Linked DNA regions of Homo sapiens: all the other regions are linked to region 3. Evidence: fine-mapped expression QTL. A gene starts in region 3. Each other region holds a variant in brackets. All regions are shown on one strand. Distances are from middle to middle.

Evidence for each region. PIP is the estimated chance that this variant, and not a neighbour inherited with it, causes the effect. A credible set is the group of variants that fine-mapping cannot tell apart.
Region 1: its variant is fine-mapped to the expression of C13orf46 in whole blood (INTERVAL, PIP 0.97).
Region 2: its variant is the best candidate, but not a certain one, in a credible set for the expression of C13orf46 in whole blood (INTERVAL, PIP 0.71).
Region 4: its variant is fine-mapped to the expression of C13orf46 in monocytes after Pam3CSK4 (Quach 2016, PIP 0.95).
Region 5: its variant is fine-mapped to the expression of C13orf46 in whole blood (INTERVAL, PIP 0.91).
Region 6: its variant is fine-mapped to the expression of C13orf46 in whole blood (TOPMed, PIP above 0.99).
Region 7: its variant is fine-mapped to the expression of C13orf46 in whole blood (TOPMed, PIP above 0.99).

What each region holds. Positions count from the first base shown.
Region 1 is chr13:114,028,168-114,032,232 of GRCh38, forward strand. RASA3 (RAS p21 protein activator 3) reads right to left here. Exons shown (of 24, transcript NM_007368.4): 5 at 1,644-1,720. Among named protein-coding and RNA genes, the nearest start is that of C13orf46, 56 kb to the left of the region's middle. RefSeq lists an enhancer at 3,024-3,965. The variant GGGCAAGACTCACACAGGA/G (reference allele first, on the strand shown) is at 2,208.
Region 2 is chr13:114,073,947-114,078,011 of GRCh38, forward strand. All of the region lies in intron 1 of RASA3 (RAS p21 protein activator 3), which reads right to left. Among named protein-coding and RNA genes, the nearest start is that of RASA3-IT1, 34 kb to the right of the region's middle. RefSeq lists an enhancer at 1-344. The variant G/A (reference allele first, on the strand shown) is at 2,499.
Region 3 is chr13:113,971,600-113,975,658 of GRCh38, forward strand. C13orf46 (chromosome 13 open reading frame 46) reads right to left here and starts at 2,477. Exons shown (of 7, transcript NM_001365455.2): 1 at 2,209-2,477. The coding sequence starts at 2,398.
Region 4 is chr13:113,992,227-113,996,291 of GRCh38, forward strand. It overlaps RASA3 (RAS p21 protein activator 3), which reads right to left. Exons shown (of 24, transcript NM_007368.4): 22 at 259-362. Among named protein-coding and RNA genes, the nearest start is that of C13orf46, 20 kb to the left of the region's middle. The variant T/C (reference allele first, on the strand shown) is at 2,144.
Region 5 is chr13:114,121,458-114,125,522 of GRCh38, forward strand. The region is part of intron 1 of RASA3 (RAS p21 protein activator 3); the gene reads right to left. LOC107987192 (a long non-coding RNA gene) reads right to left here. Exons shown (of 2, transcript XR_001750050.2): 2 at 3,830-4,065. Among named protein-coding and RNA genes, the nearest start is that of RASA3, 9.1 kb to the right of the region's middle. The variant C/T (reference allele first, on the strand shown) is at 2,014.
Region 6 is chr13:114,136,348-114,140,412 of GRCh38, forward strand. No RefSeq gene overlaps it. Among named protein-coding and RNA genes, the nearest start is that of RASA3, 5.8 kb to the left of the region's middle. The variant T/C (reference allele first, on the strand shown) is at 1,795.
Region 7 is chr13:113,937,596-113,941,660 of GRCh38, forward strand. It overlaps a transcript of C13orf46 not described here. Among named protein-coding and RNA genes, the nearest start is that of SWINGN, 11 kb to the left of the region's middle. The variant G/GCTT (reference allele first, on the strand shown) is at 1,564.

The DNA of each region.
Region 1 (4,065 bases), 57 kb after region 3:
AGTGTGTGACAGCACATCTAAAGCAGCGTCATCGGGGGGGCGGGGGGCAGGACCCCTAAAACAGTGTCATCCTGGGGGCCAGGACCCCTAAAACAGCATCATCTGGGAGCCAGGACCCCTAAAACAGTGTCATCTGGGAGCCAGGATCTCTAAAACAGCGTCATCCTGGGGGCCAGGACCCCTAAAACAGTGTCATCCTGGGGGCCAGGGCCCCTAAAACAGCATCATCTGGGAGCTAAGACCTCTAAAACAGCATCATCCTGGGGGCCAGGACCCCTAAAACAGCGTCATCTGGGAGCCAGGACCCCTAAAACAGTGTCATCTGGGAGCCAGGACCTCTAAAACAGCGTCATCCTGGGGGCCCAGAACCTCTAAAACAGCGTCATCCTGGAAGGGGGCCAGAACTTCTAAAACAGCATCATCCTGGGGCAACCTCTAAAACGGCATCATCCTGGGGGCCAGGACCTCTAAAACAGCATCATCCTGGGGCCAGGACCTCTAAAACAGTGTCATCCTGGGGCCAGGACCTCTAAAACGGCATCATCCTGGGGCCAGGACCTCTAAAACGGCATCATCCTGGGGCCAGGACCTCTAAAACAGTGTCATCCTGGGGCCAGGACCTCTAAAACGGCGTCATCCTGGGGCCAGGACCTCTAAAACGGCATCATCCTGGGGGCCAGGACCTCTAAAACGGCATCATCCTGGGGCCAGGACCTCTAAAACAGTGTCATCCTGGGGCCAGGACCTCTAAAACGGCATCATCCTGGGGCCAGGACCTCTAAAACGGCATCATCCTGGGGCCAGGACCTCTAAAACGGCATCATCCTGGGGCCAGGACCTCTAAAACGGCATCATCCTGGAGGCCAGGACCTCTAAAACGGCATCATCCTGGGGCCAGGACCTCTAAAACGGCATCATCCTGGGGGCCAGGACCTCTAAAACGGCATCATCCTGGGGCCAGGACCTCTAAAACGACGTCATCCTGGGGGCCAGGACCTCTAAAACAGCTTCATCCTGGTGGGCCAGGACCTCTAAAACGGCGTCATCCTGGGGGCCAGGACCTCTAAAACGGCATCATCCTGGGGCCAGGACCTCTAAAACGGCATCATCCTGGGGCCAGGACCTCTAAAACGGCATCATCCTGGGGGCCAGGACCTCTAAAACGGCATCATCCTGGGGCCAGGACCTCTAAAACGGCATCATCCTGGGGCCAGGACCTCTAAAACGACGTCATCCTGGGGGCCAGGACCTCTAAAACGGCATCATCCTGGGGGCCAGGACCTCTAAAACGGCGTCATCCTGGGGGCCAGGACCTCTAAAACGGCGTCATCCTGGGGGCCAGGACCTCTAAAACGGCGTCATCCTGGGGGCCAGGACCTCTAAAACAGCATCATCCTGGTGGGCCAGGACCTCTAAAACGGCGTCATCCTGGGGGCCAGGACCTCTAAAATGGCGTCATCCTGGTGGGCCAGGACCCCTAAAACAGCATCATCCTGGTGGGCCAGGACCTCTAAACAGTGTCATCCTGGGCAGCCACCGGCTCTGGAAATTCTTGTGCGTTGGTGTGAAAACCCCTGTGTGCTCCTCGGGAGCCAGACATGCCACTCGCTGTGCGCTCGGTCTCTAGTGAGGACGTGTCTTACCGTGTGGCGAGCTTGTGGCAGACGACCCCAGTGTCTGTGATGACCTCGCTCAGCCGCAGCTCCAGGTGCACTTTGCCCTGCAAGGCACAAGGATGGGGTGTCAGAGGCTGTGGCGCTGCTCCCACAGGCCACTAGGGCCGCGCGCCCAGGGAAAGCCTAGAGGGCAAAGGGAGCAGGCGGCCCCGCCCTGCCCTGGCCAATGGGCACGTCCAGCCCCTCCACTCCACCCCCGGGACGCAGGGTCCCAGCTGTGGCCTTTCTCCAGGAGAGCTGCTTGCCTGACTGCTCAGCCCCATGTGGCTGCCCAGGCTCCTGGCTCTGCTGAGAGCAGGTCGCTGCCTCAGAAGTGAGGGGTCCAACCGTGTAGGAGACGGTCATTCAGTGAAGCAGACCCCCAAAGGCTCTGATGCTGCAGGCTGCTCGTGTGTCCGTCGGGACAAACCAGAGGGGAAGCACAGCTGTCTCCCAAGCAGGGGCCACTGCCTTTACCTCCCCTCGGGCGAGGCCGGATGGAGGCCCGCAGGAACCTCGGAGAGCTCACACAGAGGGCAAGGCTCACACAGA[GGGCAAGACTCACACAGGA/G]GGCAAGACTCACGCAGAGAGCAAGACTCACACAGAGGGCAAGGCTCACACAGAGGGCAAGGCTCACACAGAGGGCAAGGCTCACACAGAGGGCAAGACTCACACAGAGGGCAAGACTCACACAGAGAGCAAGACTCACACAGAGGGCAAGACTCACACAGACAGCAAGGCTCACGGGGGCTTCTAGCAGAGCAGACAGCAAGGCTGCCCTGCGGGTCCACCTGTCTCTCTAGATCAGTCTGTCTGTGTGTGCTGCTGTGTCCATCCACCTGTCTGTCTGTGTGCACGGCTGTGGGTGTGTGTCCACCTGTCTGTGCGTACAACTGTGTGTCTGCCTGTGTGCGTGCGGTTTGTGTGTGCAGCTGTGTATGTGAGCATGCTGCTGTGTGTGCATGTCCACCTGTATGTGTGTCCGCCTGTGTCTGTGCATCTGGCTGTGTGTGTGCAGCTGTGTGTCCTCCTGTGTGTGCGGCTGTGTGTCTACCTGTGTGCGTGCAACTGTGTGTGTCTATGTGTGTCTGCCTATGCATGCATGCGACTATGTGTGTCCATCTGTGCTGCTGTGTGCGTGTCTGCCTGTGTAGCTGTGTGTCCGCCTGTGTGTGCGGCTGTGTGTCTGCCTGTGTGCGTGCAACTGTGTGTCCATCTGTGTGTGGCTGTGTCCACCTGTGTGCATGCGACTGTGTGTCTACCTGTGTGTGCATGTGATTGTGTGTATCTGCTTGTATGTGTCCACCTGTGTGCATGTTCGCCTGTGTGTGCATGCAGCTGTGTGTGTCTGCCTGTCTGTGCATGTGGCTATGTGTCTGTGTGGGCGTGCGATTGTGTGTGCGTGTCCGTCTGTGTGCACACGGCTGTGTGTCTGCCTGTGTTTGCATGAAACTGTGTGTGTCTGCCTGTCGGTGTCTGCCTGTCTGTATGTGCATCTGCCTGTCTGTGTGTTTGGCTGTGTGTGTCCTTCTGTGTGTGTGTGCGACTATGTGTGCATGTCTGTCTGTGTGCAAGCAGCTGTGTGTGCATCTGCCTGTATGTGCATGCAACTCTGTGTGTGTCTACCTGTCTGTAGTGTGTGGCTGTGTGCATGTCCTTCTGTGTGTGTGCGCGACTGTGTCTGCCTGTCTGTGCGCGTGGCTGTGTGTCCACCTGTGTATGTGTGTTTGTCCGCCTGTCTGTACATGCGACTGTGTGTGCATGTCTGCCTGTGTGTGCACCGCCTGTGTGTATGTGTGACTGTGTCCACCTGTGTGTGTGTGCGGCTATGTGTGCCTACCTGTGTGTGCCGCTGTCCCTGTATTTGCTCCAGCCTGAATGGCAATGAATGGATGGGATAAACACAGACTCATCCATGCTTCAGGGGCTCTGCCTGGCCCGGCCCTTAGCTCTAGCTCCTGAGGCTCCGGGAAGGCCAAGGCGTGTTCCCCAGGGCTTGTCCCTGCCTGTGGGAGGGTGGGACAGACGGGCAGAATGCCTGGCGCTAAGACGTGGACGGCAGAACCGACAGCAGCCCTGCAGCACGTGGCCTGGTGCAGAACCTCGGATGGAGCAGGGACCTCGCTTAGGCCCCACCCACCTAAATGATTAAAAAACCTTCGAGTTCCTTCAAAAATATATCAGACACCTAGCCAGCCTTGAGTGGTAAATCACCTAACAAGCAAAATAAATAATAAAATAATAGCCAAAAAATTAGTCAGGAGATATTTATTCCCTATACAAGTTAAAAATAGCATCTTAACATATGTCCCTAAATTGTTTTTCAAAAACCGAGACCCTCACCAAACAGATCTACCAACACAGACCACAAATGCAGGGGGGATCACAGGCCCGAACCCTGAACCCGGCT
Region 2 (4,065 bases), 100 kb after region 3:
AAAGCCTTGGTTTTTTTGCCACCACAAGTCAAAATGTGGATGTGCACCCCATGTGTACTGCCGAAAGGCGAGGGACATGCACGCCACCCTCTAATGCAAGTCCCGCAAGCAGGGACCTGCCAGCCTGGGACTCAGGATTGCTGTGTCTTGTTTACCTGCATTAGTCCCTTTATTTTAATTTTTAACATACAATTTTCCATCTCTGACCTGCTCGCGTGCACAGTTCTGTGGCATTAACCACGTTCACCGAGTTGTGCAACCATCACCACCGTCCTCTCTGGAACACTCTCGTCTTCCCAAACGGAGACTCGGTCCCCATTCAACACTCACTCCCATCCCCCTCCTGCTGTCTCCCAGTGGCCCTCACCCCACTTTCTGTCTCTGTGGATCTGACTACTCTGGGGCCTCACGTCGGCGGGATCCACAGGACGTGTCCTTTCAGCCCGGCTCACTCTACTCAGCAAATGTCCTCCAGGGTGGCCCCTGCTGTGGCCGCTGACTGGATTCCCTTCTATTTTAAGGTTGAATAACTTCCATGATGCAAAGGGACCTCGTCTTGCTTATTCATTTATCCACTGAGTCCCTTTTTATTTTGAATTTTATTTTATATTAGGTCAAAGTTGGAGCCAGAATTAAAGGAAAGAGCTCTTTCTTGTGGACGTGAGTTAACTGTAAACTCCAGCTGTTCGAATTGCCAGTAAAGAGAAGCGTCCCAGAGGGACCTAAGCTAGGTCCACCTCTCCCTCCTTCAAGCCCACAGAGACGCCACCTGGACGTGCTTGAAGGAAGTGGGGCCAGTTCCTGGCTGGCCCTGCAGAAAACGCCCGTGATCCCGGACTCCTTGTTTGCCAGGGGTCAGTCTGGAGGTCATAACTGAACCCCAGCTGCGACTTCTCTGCTGGAAGCTCGGAGCATGCCCCAGCGGCAAGCCTAACGGCCCAGTTTACTGGAGAATAGGGAGTGAGCAGGAAGGGATGAGTGACAGCTGTCAATCCAGACAGCGGATGCCCAGTTTAAGTCCATTCTGTAAAAAAAACGCCTCAAACACACTCGCGCCTCCCCAGGGCCTTTTCTGCCTCCGTCATTTGGCTCTAAAGACGCCTGGCAGTGGCGTCTCCACGACGCAGGATGAGAGGACAGATGCAGGCACAGGCACCACGCTGAGACCACACCAAGGCTCCTGCTGGCGCCACTCAGGGCCACATCACCTTATTCTTGTTGAAACAAACAAAATCAAAAACGGGAGCAGAGTAGAAGTTTCTCAGAACCCCACTTCCGCCACTCCGCGCTGAATGTTTCGCGTCAACTCAGCAAGCGCACACGTCATGGCTCACATGGGGCAGTCGGCTCATTTCAAAGATGCCAGTTTGCAAACTGGCATGCCAGCAACTCCAAAGGGCAGAGATAAACTCAGTTTGAAGCTTTTTAAAGACTTTTCATCCACAATATTAACCTGAGGCACTGTGAGAAGGAGCAGAAGCCCCAGGGTCTGGACAACGCCTCCCGTGTCCGCGCCGCGTATCTCTGCGTGTGGAGGCACCGGCAGGACGAAGCCTCCCGTGTCGGCGCCGCGTATCTCTGGGTGTGGAGGCGCCGGCAGGACGAAGCCTCCCGTGTCCGCGCCGCGTATCTCTGCGTGTGGAGGCGCCGGCAGGACGAAGCCTCCCGTGTCCGCACCGCGTATCTCTGCGTGTGGAGGCGCCGGCAGGACGAAGCCTCCCGTGTCCGCACCGCGTATCTCTGCGTGTGGAGGCGCCGGCAGGACGAAGCCGCCCGTGTCGGCGCCGCGTATCTCTGGGTGTGGAGGCGCCGGCAGGACGAAGCCTCCCGTGTCCGCGCCGCGTATCTCTGCGTGTGGAGGCGCCGGCAGGACGAAGCCTCCCGTGTCGGCGCCGCGTATCTCTACGTGTGGAGGCGCCGGCAGGACGAAGCCTCCCGTGTCCGCGCCGCGTATCTCTGCGTGTGGAGGCGCCGGCAGGACGAAGCCTCCCGTGTCGGCGCCGCGTATCTCTGGGTGTGGAGGCGCCGGCAGGACGAAGCCTCCCGTGTCGGCGCCGCGTATCTCTGCGTGTGGAGGCGCCGGCAGGCGTTCCCAGCAGCACCCGCTGCTGCCCACACGGAGCAGCTCTCAGGGTCTCACTGCTTGCGGCCGTTTCCCGCCAGTGCCCCCAACACACAGTCTACCTCTCTGGGCCTCAAAGTCCTGAACTGCAAAAGCAAGAGACACAGCAGCTCTCGAAGGCTCCTCCGGCTCTGAGACGCCTCTAATTCAAAAGGTTCTGGAAATTTTTATTTTGGGAATCATTAAGGAAGCATCAATGATAATCGGTTGGTGGGAAAAAATGAGTATTTCCTGATAGGCACTGGACCCTCAGAACACCTCAACACGGCGACTCTCCCGGGATGCGCCTTCTTCACCCGCTGCATGGGAGAACACAGCTAGGCTGCTACGAGGCACCTGGCTCCAGGCCAGGCCTCAGGTCGGTCATCCCATGTCA[G/A]AAGACAGGCTTTCCGAAGGCTCCCACCGATGTGAAGATCCCACACGCAGCACACGCACACACGCAGCGCACACACGCAGCACACGCACGCAGGCAGCACCGCACACACACGCAGCACACGCAGGCAGCACACGCACACACACGCGGCACACGCAGGCAGGGTGTGTGATGAGTTCACAGGCACGAAGGGGAGAACATGGCCGGCGAGCTTCTCCAGAGAGGGAAGGGAGCCTGGGGGATGGCAGTTGAGGTTCCCGGAGCAGACGCAGCCTTCCTGGTGGCCGCGGCTGCCCCTGAATTTGAGGGCAGCCGCAGCACACCCAGCAAGTCGGACAGGGGCCCCTCCAGCCTCCCGGCCCTGTTTTGGAACTGACGGCTTCTGCAGCAGATAGAAGTCCTTACCCTCAAACACAGCTTGACTTTGCTGACTTTCCTTCTGACACCTTTACAGTGTGACCTGACGCTGACCATATTTCCCTTGGGATTTTACTGGGTTTTTTGTTTTTGTCTTTGGGAGTTTTTTGTTTTTGTTTTGTTTTCTGGGATTTCTTTGTTTTTTGCAACAAATGAGTGTAGATATTTAGCTGTAAGTTCCTGTGTTTCTTAAAAGGAGAGAGAAAAAAGCTTTTGAAAGTCCTGTGGGAGATGGTGTTTGTGGATAATACGGAACTGAGATTTGTTCCCACAGGGCCTCAAATCACAGCAGTAACAGCTGGGTCTTCCGAAGGCGGACACTGCAGGACGGAAACACACAAGCTTTCTGTGGAGTCCCTGTAAGACAGACGCCGTACGACATGAAAAGGCCGGATCCCCCTGCGCTGGCGCCAACACACCAGATTCATCCCTCCCTGCCTGATGATGCCCAGTCCCACCGCACTGGCACCAACGCACCAGGTTCCTCCATCCCTGCCTGACGATGCCCAGTCCTACCGCACTGGCACCAACGCACCCAATTCATCCCTCCGTCCCTGCCTGACGATGCCCAGTCCCCCCACACTGGCACCAACACACCGGATTCATCCCTTCCTCCCTCCCCACTCAATGATGCCCAGTCCCCCCACACTGGCACCAACGCACCGGATTCATCCCTCCCTCCCTGCCCGACGATGCCCAGTCCCACCGCACTGGCACCAATGCACCGGATTCATCCTTCCTCCCTGCCCGACAATGCCCAGTCCCCCCACACTGGCACCAACGCACCGGATTCATCCCTCCCTCCCTCCCTGCCCAACGATGCCCAGTTCCCCCGCACTGGCACCAAGGCACCGGGTTCCTCCCTCCCTGCCCGATGATGCCCAGTCCCCTGGCCCCAAAACACACCAGGTTCCTCCCTCCCCGCCCGATGGCCCCGTCTTTACCTCCTTCTCCTTGCTCACTGTCATCTGGGGCTGAGACTCTTTCTTTTTAATCTACTTTTGCTATGATGCATTTAATAAAAAAAAAAGTGGGGGGACAAAATGCAAGCCCATTTCCCTGCCTCAGGCTTCTGATGCCATCACCTCCAAGGCACTGGTTTTGTTTCCAACTGTTAATAAAGCATTGAAACAGAAAAAAAAAAAAAAAACTC
Region 3 (4,059 bases):
CCCAGGCCCAGACACACCCCACTGGTGCCCCCGTGAAGTCGGCCACCCCACGTCTCCCGCATCCCGGAGGCCTCCCTGTGAAGTGGACGCGGCGTCTCACACATCCGGGCACCTGTGGGTGCACGTGGCACTGGGCATGTCATGGAGCCCACCAAGTCTGCGAGGGGTGAGGAGCTGAGTCCCTGCAGAAACCAAGGCCACGTCGGACTCTACCAGTGGTCAGCAAGGCCCGGCCCTTCTCCTCGGGTCACAGGGCTGGAAATGCCTCCTGCTCTTCTCCGGCAGAATCTCAGTTGTCTGGGGGCAGCCACAAAGCTCCAGGGAGGATGCGCTCCTGGGCCGTGGTCTCGAACCCTGAGGGTGCTGGTGCCTGGGGGAGGCTGTGCAGGGTGGACATCTTTGCCAGACAGGACAAGCGGCCACACAGAAGCCCGGCCTCCCTGCTGCGGCACCTCCCATCGTGCAGTTTTGGGCAAATCCAGCAGGTGTTGAGGGAAATGTCAGCCACAATGGGGCTCAATCCCTCCCTCCATCCGACCCCGGCCTCTAAGTCCGCACTGTGGTGGCATCGGGCGGCATTATTGGAGATCCACTCCCCGCCCCAACTTAAATTCCCGCTAAGCAGCCTTGGCGTAACTTATTCTTTTGAGAACTTTGCACGTCTTGAGGGAACCCCGTGGGGAGGGAGGTAGGGTGCAGCCTCCTAACTACTCACGCCCCCCAAATAGCACATATTTGGATTTTTAAACTCAGAGAAGAACACATATTTTTACATCATTACCTCTTAAAATTGTCCCCAGGGCTTGAGCAAGCAAACCCCGAGTCCTACCGGGCTGTCTCACTTCCACGGCCCCGTGGACACCTTTGCGAAGGGGAGGCGGAGCTGCCGAGGCCGCGGGAGGGGAGGGGAGCGCCAGCTCGCAGCTCCGTGTCAGCCCCTCAGCCCTGTGCTCTGGGCCAGTATTCAAGGTGTGAGGAGGTGACTGCAGCACCATCCCCAGGCCCACACCACCGTCCGTTCGGCACACCTGGAAACATCTCAGAGTGGCGAGTGTGGACCGACACAGGGGCAGCCTACACGTTTCGCGGTTTAGAAGCCAACCGTGTCAAACACCAGCTACGCAGGTTCCTTGCTGGTGGGTGAGGCCCAGAGCTCCTGGCAGGGACCCAGGCCCTCACCAGGGCCTTCTTGCAAACGGGGCGCCTGGCTATGATCCTCCCTTCAGGCATCGGCTGGCTTCGGAGGCCCATGAGGGTCCCAGGCCTGCCCTCCTCTCACCCCTCCCGCCCTTGGCTGTGCCCGGCTGGAGCCCCCACAGCTCCGCCCCAGCAGCGCAAGGCCTTCCCAGCAGCCCTGGGTGGGTTACGGGTGTGGACCTGGAGTGCTCCCCACTTCCACCCTTAGCGTTCCGAGCACAGGGCAGCGGGAGGCAGGAGGCCCGGCCCGGTCCCTGCTGCCGGTGGAAGGAAAATGAATCTTGGGCCCTGAATCACTGAGCTAAGGGGAGGAGTAAGGCTGGGAATGTGTCAGACAAACCTGCCTCCCATCCTCTTCCTAAACAAGAGCTGCAGAGATAAACGGCCACAGGCCTCCCTCATCATTCACCCACGAGGAAATTCCTTGTGAGCCTTAAGATCTCTGCCCTAAGCAGTTTTGTGGAGTTTCACGCTGGGAATGCACGTGGACAGCTGACCGTCAACAGGCGCAGGACAGGGACAGAGATCACGGTCCTCCCTCTGCTCACCTGAGACAAGTGTGTCCGACAGCTCCCTCTGGGCTGCTCATGAAAAACCGCAGTCACGGAGCCGGACGAGGATACAAGTGACTCTCCCTCTAGTCCCCTCACGTGTAAATTGTGTGTTCAGTGAAAGGCTGATCGAGACCCAAAGAATGCAGCCCTGTGTCTCCTCTACCTACGACCTGGAAGCCCCTCCTGCTTCAGGCTGTCCCTTTCCGGACAGAACCGACGTACCCCCTCACAGGTGCTGATTGATGCCCCACGCCCCCCTGCAATGTATGACGTCAGGCCGTGCCCCGCCTTGGACACACGTCGTTGGACCTCCTGGGGCTGTCTCGGCGCATCCCTAACCTTGGGAACTTCCTAGAACTTTCTAACTGGGCTGGGCTCTGACGCAGGTACTTTGGGTTCAGTGCCTGGTGGGACAGCCGCGCCGTCCACCCGCTCCCCGCGGCCCCACAGCCCCTACCCAGCTCCTTGTGAGGCTTCCTAGGGCGGCTGGGAGGGTCCCCCTCGGGCTGCAGGCCTCCCAGACTCCTGCTTCGCTGAAGTTCAGAGGCCTCACTGGCCGCCTTGAGGTGCCCAAGGGCCACTCCTGAGGGCAGGGCCCTGAGGCCGGGCCGGTGCCTCCTGTGTGTGGTCCCCGTGTCCTTCTCCATCCTCCAGCCCAGCCTCGGCTTGAGCACAAGGCTGCCACCCTCACACCCAGCCGTCCCGCAGGGAGTAGTCAGGAGGTGCTGGGAGTGCGTTGCCATGGGTCTGCTGTGACATCACTGTAAGGTCAGAGGCCAAAGATCAGCCGATCCCTGGCAGCACAGCGTGGCTTTCCTGCAGGCCGGGGCTGGGGCGGGTTCTGCGTCTTCCCTTCTTCTTTCCCGCAGGCCGGGGCTGGGGCGGGTTCTGCGTCTTCCCTTCTTCTTTCCCGCAGGCCGGGGTTGGGGCGGGTTCTGCGTCTTCCCTTCTTCTTTCCCGCAGGCCGGGGCTGGGGCGGGTTCTGCGTCTTCCCTTCTTCTTTCCCGCAGGCCGGGGTTGGGGCGGGTTCTGCGTCTTCCCTTCTTCTTTCCCGCAGGCCGGGGCTGGGGCGGGTTCTGCGTCTTCCCTTCTTCTTTCCCGCAGGCCGGGGCTGGGGCGGGTTCTGCGTTTTCACATCTCTGGTCTCTCCACCAGGGAGGGCGGGGAACTGGCACCAGCCCTAGCAGGGCCTGCAGATGAGACGCCGGTCTCCCTCTGTGACAGGGTATTTGAATCTTTCTCTCCCTATCAGGGCAAATGGGACACAGATCAACTCAGGAAGACAAAGGCAGCCCCTGCAGGCAGTGGTGGGGTGCAAATGCTGCCGGCCCAGCGCCTCTCCCCACCCACACGGCGCCAGGACGAAACCCTGATGTGGCCGGGGCTCCGGCGAGGGCTTTCCGGGCCGACGGTGTGAACTGCACAGGTCAGCGTGGGTTTGCTGGCACTCCCAGGCAGGCGGCTTAAACAGCGGGAGCTCATTCCCTCCGGTGCTGGGGGCAAGGTGTCTCGCAGCGCTGGTTACCCGAGGCCTCTCTCCTTGGCGCGAAGATGACGTATTCCGTGTCCTCACGTGGTGGTCCTGTGTGCTGCGTCCTCGTCTCCCCTTCTCATGAGGACGCTGGTCACACTGGGTCAGGGCCTCGCTTTACCTTGACAATCTCTACAGCTCCACGCCCAAGTGCAGCCACACCCTGAGGTCCTGAGGGTCACAGGGTCACAGCTCCAGCATGAGGATTTGCCGGGACAGAGTTCAGCCTGTACTGAGCCGAACAGAAAATCCCCGGCACGCTGTCTCCTCCAGCCTCCAGACCACGGTGGGTGGGGAGGCAACATTTTACCTCTTGGGGTTTTTTGGTCGGGCCTGATAATTAAAATCAGCAGATGAGCTGGAGAAAGGCACACGCACTCCAGCACGGTCTGTGTGGCCGGGAATGGCCTTTCCTTCCTGAAAGAGGAGGTAACACCCCACGGGGAAGACGCTCTCCAGAGCCAGAAGAAAGCAGCGTTCTTATCCTTGTGGATGGCTGTTTCAGCTCAAAACAACCCTTACAACAGTGTGGCTTATTTGGGCAGCCCCTTCTGCCCCTTGACAGGCACCTCGCGAGCCGGCGCACCCCCCCGCCCCCAGGACCCGCTTCCCGCACCCGGGGCTCCTCAGCCAGGGGGAAGCAGGTGTGACCCCCAGGCTGCAGGCTCCCCTCCTTCTGATCTCTTCTTTTGAAGAGCCCACAGCCTCTCAGCACCCAGGAGGCCTCAGCTCTCTGGGCAAGTGGTGGGTGCAGGGTGGGGGCCTTGGCCTCACACA
Region 4 (4,065 bases), 21 kb after region 3:
TTGGCAGTACAGAGGTTACAAGTTAAATTCCATCTAAAAATTATCTATAGAACCTATTATACAGGTAATTGTCCCCCAGATAGCTGCCTACCCTGCAAAAAGCTTTTCGCATCCATCCGTGCTACAAAGACAACTACATGTAGCCCACACTACACCAGAGGCTCAGACCACAGGTTTTCACCCCACAGCATGCTCCTGAGGCCGGGGCCTCGCCAGCCATCCCCTCGCTGCACAGATCTGTGTGCCGGGCAGACTCACCCTGCATCTTCTCCAGCTTGCTCATGTACAAGTTGAAGAGGGAGTAGATACGCTCCGTCTCACGGTCCCCATCAATGTCCAGCTGGATGTTGGCTGGGAGGCCGCTGTCCAGACACAGCAAGAACAGAAAGATAAAAACACTTATTTAAACGATGCTTTTAATAATGACATTCATTTTTAAAATGTCACTGAAGAAAGACAACGATTGTGTTGGAAGTGAAATTCGACAGGATCGATTTGCTGTCCGTCTGTGCACAGCCGGTGTGTTGGCTTGCTGAGCAAGGCTGACAGCGTCCACAGCAGCACGGACAGCAGTGTCACCAGGCTGCAAACCGGAACTAACTAGCAACCTCTGCTTCAGTTACCATTGGCCTATTTGGACACGTGGCAAAAGATCCTTGCTGTTTAGTATTTAAAATGTGCTTATCATTTGTACTAACTGACCTTTCCTGAAATCACGCAGTACTGAGTTATGTCTTGTTTAAATCTATTCCTACTCCAGAATCTTATCAATACATAAGAAATTTAGGAAGACTAGGTGCTAAAATCCCCAGTGTAATATGTAATACTTGTACATTTTTAGTATCATACAGAACTCAATTCCCAGGAACTATGAACACTCCAGACCTCATGTGGTTTATTCCTTCAGTCATTTCAAACACAGAAGGAGGCTGTGTGCTTGTTTCCCTGCTCATTCTATGTCTGCTTCTCCTATGTTCACACCAGCACACGTCAGGCTGGAGCGCGGTGGCACGATCTCAGCTCACTGAAACCTACGCTTTCTGGGTTTAAGCGATTCTCTTGCCTCAGCCTCCTGAGTAGCTGGGATTATAGGCACACACCACCACGCCTGGCTAATTTTTGTATTTTTAGTAGAGATGGGGTTTCACCATGTTGGCCAGGCTGGTCTTGAACTCCTGAGCTCAGGTGATCCACCCACCTCGACCTCCCAAAGTGCTAGGATTACAGGCGTGAGCCACTGAGCCCGGCCTCATGTCTTTTTATAAATCTTACTTTGTGTTATTATGAAAAACCTCCATAGCCGGGTGTGGTGGCTCACACCTGTAGTCCCCACACTTTTGGGAGGCCGAGGCAGGTGGATCATCTGAAGTCAGGAGTTCAAGACCATCCTGGCCAACATGGTGAGACCCTGTCTCTATTAAAAATACAAAAATTAGCCAGGTGTGGTGGTGCACACCTATAATCCCAGCTGCCTGGGAGGCTGAGGCAGGAGAATCGCTTGAACCTGGAAGGTGGAGGTTGCAGTGAGCCGAAATCACACCACTGCACTTCAGCCTGGGCAACAGAGCGAGACTCTGCCTAAAAAAAAAAAAAAAAAAAAAAAAAGAAAAGAAAAGAAAATCTACATTGTACAGAAGCACGTCTTTGATGGCTTCAGACAAAGTGGCCTCACGGTTAATTTCACATTTGCACGCAGGTGCAACCAACAGGGAGGGCCTGATAGGAACGCGCGGGGCTGTTATTTTTAGCAAAATGCTGCCTTGTGCAGAACGTGTGAAATATGCTCTTTAATTTAGTAAATACTTTTTAAAAGGCAGAAATGCTTATTATAGCTAAAACAATTCTTAAATCATAAAATTTCTGAAACGTCTGTAATTTTTTCCATACTGATTAGAAATTGTTTCCAACTTATTTTTGTTTGAAGTATGACAGTTTTTCCCTTTTCTTCCCAACTTCTCTTGTAAAAAAAGAAGTGGGTTTCTGCTAATGAACTGATCAGATGTCAATACTGTATATGCCTTTTGAGCTGAGTAGCTCAGTATTTGGATACTTGGTCATTTGTTTTATTAGGTAATTGATAAAATTGTGTCACTTATTCATGTTCAACCATATATTTATGCTGTCTGGGGATGGGTGGTTATAG[T/C]TCTGTGTGAGAAATAATTTGTCAGTCTTCAACAGCTTGTAAAAACTTTGCAGTGAGAGCTTAAACATCTAAATAAATAATGAAATGCATTTATCATAAAAAAAAGAAGAAAGAAGATGAAGTGACCAACATTAAAACACATCCCTGGCCAGTCAGGGAGTTCATGTGGGTAATCCCAGCACTCTGGGAGGCCGAGGCAAGAAGGATCGCTTGAGCCCAGGAGTTTGAGCAACACCACCCTGGGCAACATGGAGAGACCCTCACAGTGAGACCTGGCAACATAGTGAGACCCCGTCTCTACAAAAAACCAAAATTTAATGAGCTGGGCTGGTGGCATCAGCCTGTAATCCCAGCTACTTGGGAGAGTGAAGTGGGAGGACTGCTTGAGCCCAGAAGTTTGAGACCAGTCTGGGCAACGTGGTGAAACCCCGTTTCTACAAAAAACCTTAAAACAATTAGCCTGGAATGGTGGAGCACACCTGTAGTCCCAGGTACCTGGGAGGCTGAGGTGGGAGGATGGCTTGAGCCTAGGAGGTCGAGGCTGCAGTGAGCTGAGATTGCACCACTGTACTCCAGCCCGGGTGACAGAACGAGATCCCATCTCAAAGACATAAAACTAAAAAAGCATCCCCGAGCTGGGAGAACTGAGGCTGGCTGTGGGTGTGCGGGATAGGGGAGGCTCCCGAGCTGTCCGGCCTCAGCGGCTGGAGCCTCTTGGGACCCACAGATCTGCCAAGGCAGTGAGCAAACTCGGCAGACGTGTTCTCATGGAGATAAATGGCCTGGAAGGAAGCCTCCTGGGACTGTGTTCCCTGCACGGTCGGCTGCGGGTGGGGACAGGCCAGGTTTTCTCTCCTCGTCAGGCTGCAATGCTTCCCGCTGTCCTGGGATGCGAGGACATGGGAGAGCGCTGGCCTCTCCTGGGGGATTCTGGGGCGGTGGCCACGCATGCCTGAGCAGCAGCCAGGCCCCCTTCCTGAGCTTCAGCCTCTGTGTCCACGAAGCAGGATCTAAGGTCCCACCTCTGAGGCTGTGGGAGGATTAAACGGTGGCCCAGCATGGAGCACAGCTCATCCCCTGCAGGGCCCTTATGCGAAAGCATCACGTGGCCACAACAACAGCGAGGTGCATCTCACGGAGCATAACCAGGGGGACCGCCAGGCACCCAGGCCTCCTCCTTAGGACCGGCAGATATGACCCAAGCCTCTGTGCAACTGCCAGAGGCCCGGCTGATGGGGGGCCCTGCTGATGGGGGGCCTGACAGGGGGCCCAGCTGACGGGGGGCCCAGCTGACGGAGGACCCAGCTGATGGGGGCCCGGCTGATGGGGGGCTGGCTGACGGAGGACCCAGCTGATGGGGGGCCCGGCTGACGGGGGCCCGGCTGACGGGGGCCCGGCTGACGGGGGGCCCGGCTGACGGGGGGTCCGGCTGATGGGGGTCCGGCTGACGGGGGGCCCGGCTGACGGGGGGCCCGGCTGACGGGGGGCCCGGCTGATGGGGAGGCCCGGCTGATGGGGAGGCCCGGCTGATGGGGGACCCGGCTGATGGGGGGCCCGGCTAATGGGGGGGCCCGGCTAATGGGGGGCCCGGCTGATGGGGGACCCGGCTGATGGGGAGGCCCGGCTGATGGGGAGGCCCGGCTGATGGGGGACCCGGCTGATGGGGGGGCCCGGCTGATGGGGGGGCCCGGCTGATGGGGGGCCCGGCTGATGGGGGGCCCGGCTGATGGGGACCCGGCTGATGGGGGGCCGGGAAGACAACGGGCTGCTGCGTCATGTGGAATCAAGGTGGGTGTCCTGGGCCAGACGAAGCTTTCAGGGAGGGGCTTGCTCCCAGCCTCCTCCTAGAGAAGCAGGATGGCCACGGCCTGGGGAGTCCCCCTTCACCCTGACCTCCCGCTCCCCCGGGGCAGGGCCTCAGG
Region 5 (4,065 bases), 150 kb after region 3:
CCGGAGCCTCCCTTACCTCCACCCAACACTGCACATCAAGCCGTGCAACCCTGCCCCAAACGGTCCCAGGGTCATGGGTGTGCATACATGTGCATGTGTGCAAGCATGTCACAAGAGGAGACCTCCGAGGAACATAAGGATGCGGACTCCTCCCTCAGCCTGAACCTCTGTCTCTCAGGCACAGCTCGACCTTTGACCTTCGGCTTCCCCAGAGAAAGACTTTGAACGCTTCACTCCTCTGTAGCCCTGAGGACGCGGGCGGCCAGACCAGTCCCTGAGTGCGGCACCATGGCCGTGTGAGTTTATGGCCCATTGCGCTAGCCCTGTACAGTGAATGAGATACTAGTTGTTTACAGCTGTGAGCATACACAGGCCCCCCGCCACACGCTCAGGAAGGAGCTTCTCGGAATCTCTCTCCTGCCTCGCACCATGCAGCCGGGCTAGCAGGTTTGTGGGCCGAGTGCAGGAGCCTGCTCCCACTGTCACTGCAGGTGACTGGCTGAGGGGCACACAGGGCCCAGAGGCTCCTACCTCCAGCCACCGCCCCTAAACTAATGAAGATTCCAGTCCGTGGGGCCCACCGCAAATCCCAGAATCTCAGCAGTCAGTCTTGGACATTAGTTGTCGGGGAGGGAGAGGATCTGGGAGGCCAGGCGTCCCTTCCAGGCTGCGCAGCCGGCCACGGCGGCAGAGCTTCCCCAGGCTGCTCCAGCCTTCAGGGCCCCTCCGCGGTCAGCCCCACCCCCGGCCAGCAAGGCTTCCTGAGAAGGCTGAGCTTGGCACCTACAGACTGGGGGGGATCTGGAATTCCCCAGAAAAGCCCTCATCCCAAAGCCCATGGGAAAACCAGCCCTGTTGGAGCATCCCACCCGGACCTCGGAGGAGAGTCCGGCATGGCCAGTCCCCTGGGCTCTGCATGCAGATGGTTTTCCCAGAACCGGTTCCTCTTCCTGAATCTCTGCTAATGGCCCTGTCCATCAGTCTGACCCCAGCCTTGGAAACCCCCATGCAGCCTGGGCCAGAATGAAGTAGGCAACCAGAGGCTCAGGGTGCTTGGGGCCGAACCACCCCCAGCTCCACCACCTCCTTCCTGCCCCCGAGCCGTGCCTTCCCCCGCTGGGTGGGCTTGCTCTGCATCTGGGAGCACCTGGGCCCGGGGGTGCAGGTGGGTTCGCCCCTGCCCATTGGAGGGAAATGTTCTGACATGGAAGCAGAGGGCACAGCATTCAGGAGAACCAGTGGGGCCTCCACACAGGGGGACGCAGCTAGGAAGGGGGTCTCCGGCCGGTCGGCCCCGAGTGAGGGACGCAGCTAGGAAGGGGGTCTCCGGCAGGTCGGCCCCAGCCCTGACTCCAGGCCTGTGCATCTCACTGCTGCCCAAAGCAAGGACCACTGGCTGCCATGACAGCTGCCACAGTGCTGAGCAGGCCCAGCCAACGCTGCATGAGAAAGGGCTCTAGGAAGGAAAAGGCCGCGGCAGCACCCAGCCTCCTTTCTGAGGAAGCGATTCCACGAGCCACAAAAGCGCCTGGGCTGTGGTCATCAGAGTCCACCACAAGACAACCTTCCTGGGTCCCTACACCCTGGACACACCTTCGGTGCGTGCCCGGCATGGAGACGCTCCTGCTGCCGGCATGGCTTTGGGGACAGCACTTTGCTCCTGGAGCCTCAGAGGAGGGGGGCCGGAAACATGTGTCCTGCACAGTCACCACCGGACGCCGAGGTGGCCGCCCCAGCAGGGGCCATGGGCTGAGGCTGGTCCTCAGGCTCCCAGAGCAATGGCTGCTCTGGGGAAGAGAAAACACAGAAGTGACAAGATCAAGGCAAACTAGCTGCTCCAGCACCTCGAGGGTTTGGAACCAAAACAAGAAATCTCCAGAGCTGAAAAGAAGAGTGAAACCTTTTCCTTCAGAAGGAACACAGCTAAAGAGAAGATTTAGGGGTGCACGCAAGGGCCCTCAGGTACTCTGTGCAGCCCCTCAAAGCAGGGAAAAGGCCAGGAATGAAACCTAA[C/T]GCAGAAATGGGAACTGGCTCCAACGCCACACGAACAGCCAGCCTGGGTCTATCGCGCCCAGTTCAGACCCGGGCTGCAGCTTGGAGACGATGACGTCCAAAAACCAAGCTCCAGGAAGACACAACAACAATCACCCTTAGGCTTTGTCAGGCATCCCAGAGAATCCTCCGTCCTACCCTGGGCACGCCATGCGCACCAGGCAGGGAGGGTGGCTCTCAGCAAGGGGCTGAGGACTCTGGCCCATCCTGGGGCGAGGGAGGCACCCACGGGGTGGGCCATGCGGGGCTGGGAGCCACGGCCCCCATGCAGGTCCTAAGTGGACATCTGTCTGGTCGGTGGTCAGAAAAAGGATCCCCACGGTGTCTAGGAAAGACTCAGACCTCTTACCAACCTCTGGAATTTTATCCTATGGGCAGTCAGGGCCAAGACAGATGATTCTTTACAGGTTGGAAATTATTCGGATAACATAAAAGAAACAATGTAAAGAGGAAAGAACAGGTGCAGGAGTCGTTCCTCGATCAATTCCAGGTCAAGGCACCGGTTTCGGTCCCCAGTGCGGCTCCTGTCTCCTGACCCAGCCCCCCGGCCCAGCCCCCAGAAGCCCGGCACGGTGTCTCTCGGGACCCAGGACACGCAGGTCAGCGCTGCAGCCGTTACTGGCTGTGTTGTGATACCAGCAGGGCACTGACTGTCCCCAGAAGGAACAAAACTGAGACTTAAATTTGGGTGATTGTTCCAAATGTGGGATTCAAGCTTATTTGAAAACGAAAACTAAGAATGCCAAATTTCAGGGTGGCTAGAGCTACAGCCCCAGGAATCCAGCCCTGTCTGCAGAAACACACCTAATATTTTCAGACACTCATAGAACAAGGAACTACTATTTTTGAGAAAATACTCACAGAAAAACAAAATCTCCCAGACACTCTGATGCCGTTTGACCAATAACCCATGGGGAAACTCACTTCCGGGGATCCAGGCCCGACGAGGGCGTTCCCGGGCACCTCGGTGACTCTGAAACTCATATCTACAGCAAAGCTTGAACGTTTGTAACTGTTCACTTTGGACTCTGCGTCACACCCAGAGAGACCCTGAACCATCTGTCACAGGTGACGTAACCCTCAGTTCCCCTTCACCTGTGCCAGAGCCTCCCAGACACAAAGGCTGGAGCCCCAAAACCTGTCAGGGGCCTCTCAGGGGCCAGCCACAACTCACTCCGCCTGTCACTGCTGGACGCCCGCTGCGGCCTGACGGAGCCGCTCCTTCACCTGTCCACATGCATTTCCCACACAGCACATTGTCTTGAATGAAGGCAAGTTATTTTCTTTCTCGGCCTTGGCGTCCTCCACAGCCGACACTGTTCTTGCAATCTGTGAAGGGATGATTTCTAAGCTCCGCCTTTGTTCTTCACTCACTCACCCACCGTATACATAGTTGCACATTGATGCATAATAGACATATACTTGCTGCTACGGAAGGCCTTGTATTCCTGTCTCTCTTCCTACCACAGCACTCCTGCCATCCCACAGGTAATCCAATTAGCAGGCTGTGTGGGTCTTATCCCTGATCTGCGCACACTCATCTGATCTGTGTTTATCATTCTTCTAGGGGGTGGTGTTGGGCGCTCTCATTTTGCTTCTTTTGAATCTTATGCCGTGGAACTTCCTGCGAGTCATGTGGTTTGGCCTGGGCTTAATATGTTCCTTGAAAGCCACAGAGCAGCCCACATGTGGATGCACATGACATAATCACCGTTTCAGTTGGCGATTACTCATTGGGCTGTTCTTGCATTGCTATAAAGAAACACCTGAGACTGGGTAATTCAAAATAAACGAGGTTTATTGGTCACGGTGCTGCAAGCCGTACAGGAAGTATGGAGGCATCTGCTTCTGGGGAGGCCTCGGGAAGCTTCCAGTCATGGCAGAAGGTGAAGGGGGAGCAGGTGTCTCACACGGCGAGAGCGGGGGCAAGAGCGCGAGGTGGGAGGTGTGCCACCGGATCTCACGAGAACTCACTCACTATCGTGAGAACAGCACCAAGGGGATAGCGCTGAG
Region 6 (4,065 bases), 160 kb after region 3:
ATTCGTTTTCTAAATTAGAAAGTTGTCTCTTAGAGCTGTGATAATATGAGCTGGGAAATAAAATACTGAGAGAAGAAAGGATCAGATGATGACCCAATAGAAAATCTCTATAATTTCTTCTTTCAATGACCTTGGTGTTACACTTTGCTCTCTTTGGATATACTCTTCTGTTCACATATCAACCCATTGACAAGTGGACATTCATTCATTTCCAAAACAGCATTATTAGATCATGTCTGAACAATCTACTTTCAAAGGATTTGAAGCCACATAAATGACCAGTACACAACGGAATAATTTTTGGAGGGTTCAAAGTAAGAACTGAAGGAAGAACGGTGGAATCAGGTATCTGAACCTGAAAGAGCCCATCCTGCCAGGTGCATCCCAAGGGGCTCACTGGGCCTGAATTCAAAATGGAGGCACGCGACCTTTTGCTCACTAGAGGTCACACGCCAGCTCTGCGTTCCCGGAAGTGCTGGAAATTTCACAGCTGTCTGTTCATGCTGCTGGAATCAACCAAGGCCAGAAAATCCCAATTTGCCCTCTGGACCAAACCAATAGACTGCTACCAGGCTCTACCAAACAGAATGAAGCAAGTCTGCCTCCCTTATCTGCATAAAGGCCAGAATGAGATCCTGGGCAGGAATTCCCTTGTGGAAGACAATCGCATGTTTCTTCTCTGGAATGCACCTTTGTTTTGTTCCAAAGGCAGCATCTCCCAGTTTGCAAACTGCTTGCTGGAATAATGTCTCTTTCCCCTTTTTTTTTTTTTTTTTGAGATGGAGTTTCGCTCTTGTTGCCCAGGCTGGAGTGCAATGGCGCAATCTCGGCGCTCACCACAACCTCCGCATCCCAGGTTCAAGCAATTCTCCTGCCTCAGCCTCCCGAGTAGCTGGGATTACAGGCATGCACCACTATGCCTGGCTAATTTTGTATTTTTAGTAGAGACAGGGTTTCTCCATGTTGAGGATGGTCTCGAACTCCTGACTTCAGGTGATCCGCCCGCCTCAGCCTCCCAAAGTACTGGGGTTACAGGCGTGAGCCACCGCGCCCGGCCTGTCTCTTTCCTTTTAAAAGAAATTTTTTTAGTGGATTTGTTGACACATGTAAGGTGAGAACAGCTGAACGTAAAGCTACACACTGAGCTTCCGGATAGCCAAGGTGAAAAGGGAAATATGGAAATATGAATCTTACACAAGTCACATTATCTGATAAAAGGAAGCATGTCAGACTTTCAGGAAAGACAGTACTTTAGCCCACAAGGCAATACAAGAAATTTTTTAGGGAATTCTTTTCAAAAGGAATATTGGACAAGTTAGGGGAGGATGTTTTTAATCTCAAATGACACTCACTACAGGGCCTAGAACATGGTAAATGCTCAATGAATGTTTGTTGAATGAATGTAGTAAAAATATAACATTAAATCATAATTCTCGCATAAAATTTATGTAGGCACTTAGAAGTCAAAGAAAGTAGCTTTCTAGTGACCTGATGAGCTGCGAAAGAACACATTTGGAGAATCTAGAGAGATGAATAAATAGCCACCGAAGAGTCTTTCTCAAACATTAGTTGAGCCACACAACTGAGAGAAGCAGACAGGTCCACTCCAAGATTCCTGTGGATGCCGAGGCCTGGTGGTCTGTGTTGTTGATGGACAGGAGACGCAATGCTGTGCTGGGTTTATCAACTACAGTCGGAGGCTCAGGTGGGCCTTACCACGGAGCATCATGGTCTCGCTCTCATCTTCTTGAAATGCAGAGAGAGAGGAAAGAAGCAGCCTAGACCCCCGAGTCA[T/C]GAAGCAGACAGCAGTGGGTGTAGACACGGTGGCGGTGGGTGTAGACACGGTGGAGGTGGGTGTAGACACGGTGGAAGTGGGTGTAGACACGGTGGTGGGTGTAGACATGGTGGAGGTGGGTGTAGACACGGTGGAGGTGGGTGTAGACACGGTGGTGGGTGTAGACACGGCGGTGGGTGTAGACACGGTGGAGGTGGGTGTAGACACGGTGGTGGGTGTAGACACGGTGGTGGTGGGTGTAGACACGGTGGAGGTGGGTTTAGACACGGTGGTGGGTGTAGACACGGTGGTGGGTGTAGACACGGTGGAGGTGGGTGTAGACACGGTGGTGGGTGTAGACACGGTGGCGGTGGGTGTAGACACGGTGGAGGTGGGTTTAGACACGGTGGTGGGTGTAGACACGGTGGTGGGTGTAGACACGGTGGAGGTGGGTGTAGACACGGTGGTGGGTGTAGACACGGTGGCGGTGGGTGTAGACGCGGTGGAGGTGGGTGTAGACACGGTGGTGGGTTTAGACACGGTGGTGGGTGTAGACACAGTGGTGGTGGGTGTAGACACGGTGGAGGTGGGTGTAGACACGGCGGTGGGTGTAGACACGGTGGCGGTGGGTGTAGACGCGGTGGAGGTGGGTGTAGACACGGTGGTGGGTTTAGACACGGTGGTGGGTGTAGACACGGCGGTGGTGGGTGTAGACACGGTGGTGGTGGGTGTAGACACGGCGGAGGTGGGTGTAGACACGGCGGAGGTGGGTGTAGACACGGTGGTGGGTGTAGACACAGCGGTGGTGGGTGTAGACACGGCGGAGGTGGGTGTAGACACGGTGGTGGGTGTAGACACAGTGGTGGTGGGTGTAGACACGGTGGAGGTGGGTTTAGACACGGCGGTGGGTGTAGACACGGTGGAGGTGGGTGTAGACATGGAGGTGGGTTTAGACACGGTGGAGGTGGGTGTAGACACGGTGGTGGGTGTAGACACGGTGGCGGTGGGTGTAGACACGGTGGCGGTGGGTGTAGACACGGTGGTGGGTGTAGACACGGTGGTGGTGGGTGTAGACACGGTGGAGGTGGATGTAGACAGGGTGGTGGGTGTAGACAAGGTGGAGTTGGGTGTAGACACGGTGGTGGTGGGTGTAGACACGGTGGTGGTGGGTGTAGACACGGTGGTGGGTGTAGACACGGTGGTGGTGGGTGTAGACACGGTGGAGGTGGATGTAGACAGGGTGGTGGGTGTAGACAAGGTGGAGTTGGGTGTAGACACGGTGGTGGTGGGTGTAGACATGGCGGAGGTGGGTGTAGACACGGTGGAGGTGGGTGTAGACACGGCGGTGGGTGTAGACACGGTGGAGGTGGGTGTAGACATGGTGGTGGGTGTAGACACGGTGGTGGTGGGTGTAGACACGGTGGCGGTGGGTGTAGACACAGTGGAGGTGGTTTTAGACATGGTGGTGGGTGTAGACACGGCGGAGGTGAGTGTAGACACGGCAGAGGTGGGTGTAGACACGGTGGTGGGTGTAGACACGGCGGTGGGTGTAGACATGGTGGAGGTGGGTGTAGACAGGGTGGTGGGTGTAGACACGGTGGAGGTGGGTGTAGACACGGTGGAGGTGGGTGTAGACACGGTGGTGGGTGTAGACACGGTGGCGGTGGGTGTAGACACGGTGGTGGGTGTAGACACGATGGTGGGTGTAGACACGGTGGAGGTGGGTGTAGACACGGTGGTGGGTGTAGACACAGTGGCGGTGGGTGTAGACACGGCGGTGGGTGTAGACATGGTGGAGGTGGGTGTAGACAGGGTGGTGGGTGTAGACACGGTGGAGGTGGGTGTAGACACGGTGGTGGGTGTAGACACGGTGGCGGTGGGTGTAGACACGGTGGCGGTGAGTGTAGACACGGTGGAGGTGGGTGTAGACACGGTGGTGGGTGTAGACACGGTGGAGGTGGGTGTAGACACGGTGGCAGCACCGCACGGAACACTCAAAGCCCACTTTCTGGCTGTGATGGCCGAGGAGAGCTGCCTCCCCTCCGAGTGGCCCATCCTAGGTACCCTTGAGCCTCACAAGCTCAGTTGCCAACCTCCCTGCTTCAGGGAGGGGTGGGGCAGCGGGTGGGACAGGAAATTCACCAGGTTGTGCAGGGCAGGGCAGGAGAGCAGAGGGAGACGCTCACGCCCCCGCCCCCAGGCCCGCAGAAGCCGTGGGTGCTGATGAATGCCCCTCAGCCCACAAATCCCTGGCACCTTGACTGTGACAACGATCGCGGCTGCTTTCATTA
Region 7 (4,065 bases), 34 kb before region 3:
CCTCCGGAGGTCCTGACAACATGCCTGAGGTGGTCGGCGCAGAGTTTGGTTTTACATATTTTAGGGAGACATGAGACATCAACATACATCGGATGAACGCTGGTTCGGTCCGGAAAGGCGGGACAGATGGAAGCAGGGAGGAGGCTTCCAGGTCGTAGGTAGATAAGAGACAAACGGTTGCACTCCTGAGTTTCTGATTAGCCTTTTACGGAATGCACAATTTACAGGAATGGTCACTCATGCCTGAGTCTGGCTCAGTGAAATGAGGGCAGAGGAAGTGATCAGCTGTGTGCGTTTGTCTCACGGGAGCAGTGGGGTGACTTTGAGTTCTGTCTGTGCTTTGTCCACAAGGAATTTCTTTGTGGGCAAATCGTGAGGCAGGCGTGTAGCTTTTTAAAATCTTTGTAGTTCCCTTACTCAGGAATAGAATGGGAGGCAGGTTTGCCTGGCACAGTTCCCAGCTGGACTTTTCTCTTAGGCTCAGCGATCTGGGGTCCCGAGAATGATTTTCCTTTCACAAGATGAACATGCAGCTCAAAGGGGGAGTGGGATGTGGTTGCGGCCTCAACTGAACGCCTCTCTGGACCCAATAATTAAAAGGACTTGCTCCTCAGATAAAAGTGCTTTTCTTTTCTCAATAGTGAGTCTATGAGGTTCCTATCTGCTGCTTTAACAGATTACCACAAACCTAGTGGCTTCCAACAGCTCAAATGTATTATCTTACAGTCCTGGAGGGGAAAGTGTGAAAAGGGCCTCAGGGTGCTGAAGGCAGGGCTGGCAGGAGCCTGGTGGAGAAGCCACTGCTTTCTTTTCTCAGCCTCCAGAGACGGCAGCAGCCTTGGCCCACGGCCCATCTTCAAACCCAGCATCTTCAAATTGCTCTCTCTTTGACCCGCCCACCTGCCTCTAAGGAGCCCAGACCTTACGCTGGGTCCAGCAGCCTCTCCATCCTCCCTAAACTCCAGGAGCACCCACCGAATAATCCAAGGCTATCTCCCGACTTGGGATTCCTAACCTAGTTCCCCCTGCAAGGTTGCCCTGTTCAAGCGTCCTGGGGGTTCAGCCTCCGACGTCTTTGGGAGGGGCCCTTGCTGTGCCCACCACTGGGAGTCGCTCCCTTCCACACGTCCGCCGTGAACTTTCCATTCCAGAAACACTGCACCAGCTGTAGCTTCTCTCAACACACAGCTCTTTCCTGTCTCCAGGTTTTGCTCAAACTTCCCACTGCCCAGCACGTCCTTCCAAACAGCCTTCACTCACTCTCAATCCCTATGGAAAACTCAGCTTGGGCCTCACGCCCAGGAAGCCTCCTGGCCCCAGGAGGCTCAGGCCCTGCTGTGCACACCACAGCACCTGCGGCCTCCCTGGGAACCCAGCCACCCCCACCCCAGGCCCACGTTTCCTCAGCCAGCTCCTCCCACGATCCCTTCCAAGCTGGCATTCCAGACCCGCCAGGTGCCTTTCACCCTGTTGTAAACTCCGGGAGGGCAGAATTCAGGTCGGACTCATCTCTGTGGCCTCAGTGGAACTTGCTCAGCTCAGGGTCAGGGACAACAGCGTCCG[G/GCTT]CTTCTCACTCCTTCAGGTCCCGGCCCTTTGCACATAGGCTTGGCTGCCTGACACGTTCCAGCCAAGGGCTGCAGCTGGCCCCTTCCCCCCGCCCCGGTGATGCCAGAAGCCACATGTTCCGGAGTGTGGAGCTGCAAGATGCAGGCAACCCAGAGCCAGAAGGGGACCACCCGATGGGGAGGACAGAGACCACCCGATGGGGAGGATGCAGACCACCCGATGGGGAGGACAGAGACCACCCGATGGGGAGGACGCAGACCACCCAACGGGGAACACGGGGATCACCCAACTGGGAAGATGGGGGCCACCTGGACGGGGGGAACGGGGACCACGTTGATGGGGAGGACAGAGACCACGTGGATGGGAAAGATGGGGACCACGTGGATGGGGAGGGCGGCACCACTCAGCCTGGTTCACACCTTTTGCAATAAGCAGCCGCCTCCTCCTGGGCTTTGGGCTGAAGGGGGACCTGCTCCAGGTTCTTAGCCGTGAAATGGGCACAGACCCGTTTCTCACCCCTGACAGGGAGGCTGTCCAGCCCTGGAGATGTTGTCACTCAGGCTCCCAGTGACCTCCTGTGCGCTGTGTATCCTGGGCCAGGGCACTGACCTCTCTGGGCCCAGCGCCATCTCATGCTCACAGGTCTGATGACAATACTTCTCAGGAGGTGCTGGGAAGGCCAAAGGGATCATCCCATGTGCTTCTAAGTCAAACACGATTCAGCGTGAAAAACACTGGCCTGGGTCATCAAGAAACCGGGTGCCAGGCAGGATGAAAGGAAGTGCCGCTGGCCTCATCTGAGCCAGAGCCTCCTGTCTGTCATGTGTGTGGGCTCTGACGCAGGGGGACCAGGATGCCCGGGTGGCAGCCGTGATCAGGGGAGGCATTCGGGCCACCTCAGAGGCCCCAAGAGGCTACCTGCCTGCCTGGCCCTGCCCATGCGGCCAAAGTCCACCCCAGGGGCGGGGGCTGCGCCTCGGCCTCAGATGCACCGTCAGCCGCATTTGGCTCCTCTTACTACTGAAGAGGGGAAGGAAGAGTGTGCAGCAGGGGCCTGGGCCGTTTCCCCGGAAGCGAAGAGCAGGAGGCCAGAGCCAGGTGGGCTCCCCTAGACCCTGCGGTGCTGCCGCCAAGCCCCCCACCCCCAGATGAGCCAGCCTGCAGCACACACTGGCGGGGTGGATGCCAGCCGAGTATTCCCAGGGGAAGCACTTTCCCTGTGCCACCCAGACAGAAGACGCAGGTGCTGGTTTCCTATGGGGCTCTGCGTGAGGATGGGCGTCTGGGACCCTGGTCTCCTCTAGGACTCCATGTGTGAGGCTGGGCATTCGAGACCCTGGTCTCTGGGACTCCATGTGTGAGGCTGAGCGTTCGAGACCCTGGTCTCTGGGACTCCATGTGTGAGGCTGAGCGTTCGAGACCCTGGTCTCTGGGACTCCATGTGTGAGGCTGAGCGTTCGAGATCCTGGTCTCCTCTGGGACTCCGTGTGTGAGGCTGAGCGTTCGAGACCCTGGTCTCTGGGACTCCATGTGTGAGGCTGAGCGTTCGAGATCCTGGTCTCCTCTGGGACTCCGTGTGTGAGGCTGAGCGTTCGAGACCCTGGTCTCTGGGACTCCATGTGTGAGGCTGAGCGTTCGAGACCCTGGTCTCTGGGACTCCATGTGTGAGGCTGAGCGTTCGAGATCCTGGTCTCCTCTGGGACTCCGTGTGTGAGGCTGAGCGTTCGAGACCCTGGTCTCTGGGACTCCATGTGTGAGGCTGAGCGTTCGAGACCCTGGTCTCTGGGACTCCATGTGTGAGGCTGAGCGTTCGAGATCCTGGTCTCCTCTGGGACTCCGTGTGTGAGGCTGAGCGTTCGAGACCCTGGTCTCTGGGACTCCATGTGTGAGGCTGAGCGTTCGAGACCCTGGTCTCTGGGACTCCATGTGTGAGGCTGAGCGTTCGAGATCCTGGTCTCCTCTGGGACTCCGTGTGTGAGGCTGAGCGTTCGAGACCCTGGTCTCTGGGACTCCATGTGTGAGGCTGAGCGTTCGAGATCCTGGTCTCCTCTGGGACTCCGTGTGTGAGGCTGAGCGTTCGAGACCCTGGTCTCTGGGACTCCATGTGTGAGGCTGAGCGTTCGAGACCCTGGTCTCTGGGACTCCATGTGTGAGGCTGAGCGTTCGAGATCCTGGTCTCCTCTGGGACTCCGTGTGTGAGGCTGAGCGTTCGAGACCCTGGTCTCTGGGACTCCATGTGTGAGGCTGAGCGTTCGAGACCCTGGTCTCTGGGACTCCATGTGTGAGGCTGAGCGTTCGAGATCCTGGTCTCTGGGACTCCATGTGTGAGGCTGAGCGTTCGAGACCCTGATCTCCTCTGGGACTCCATGTGTGAGGCTGGGCATTCGATACCCTGGTCTCTGGGACTCTGTGTGTGAGGCTGGGCGTCTGAGACCCAGGAACGTGCTGGAAACAGGAGCTGTTGACATCGTTTCCCAGGCTGGGCTGCTGCTGTTTCTCTG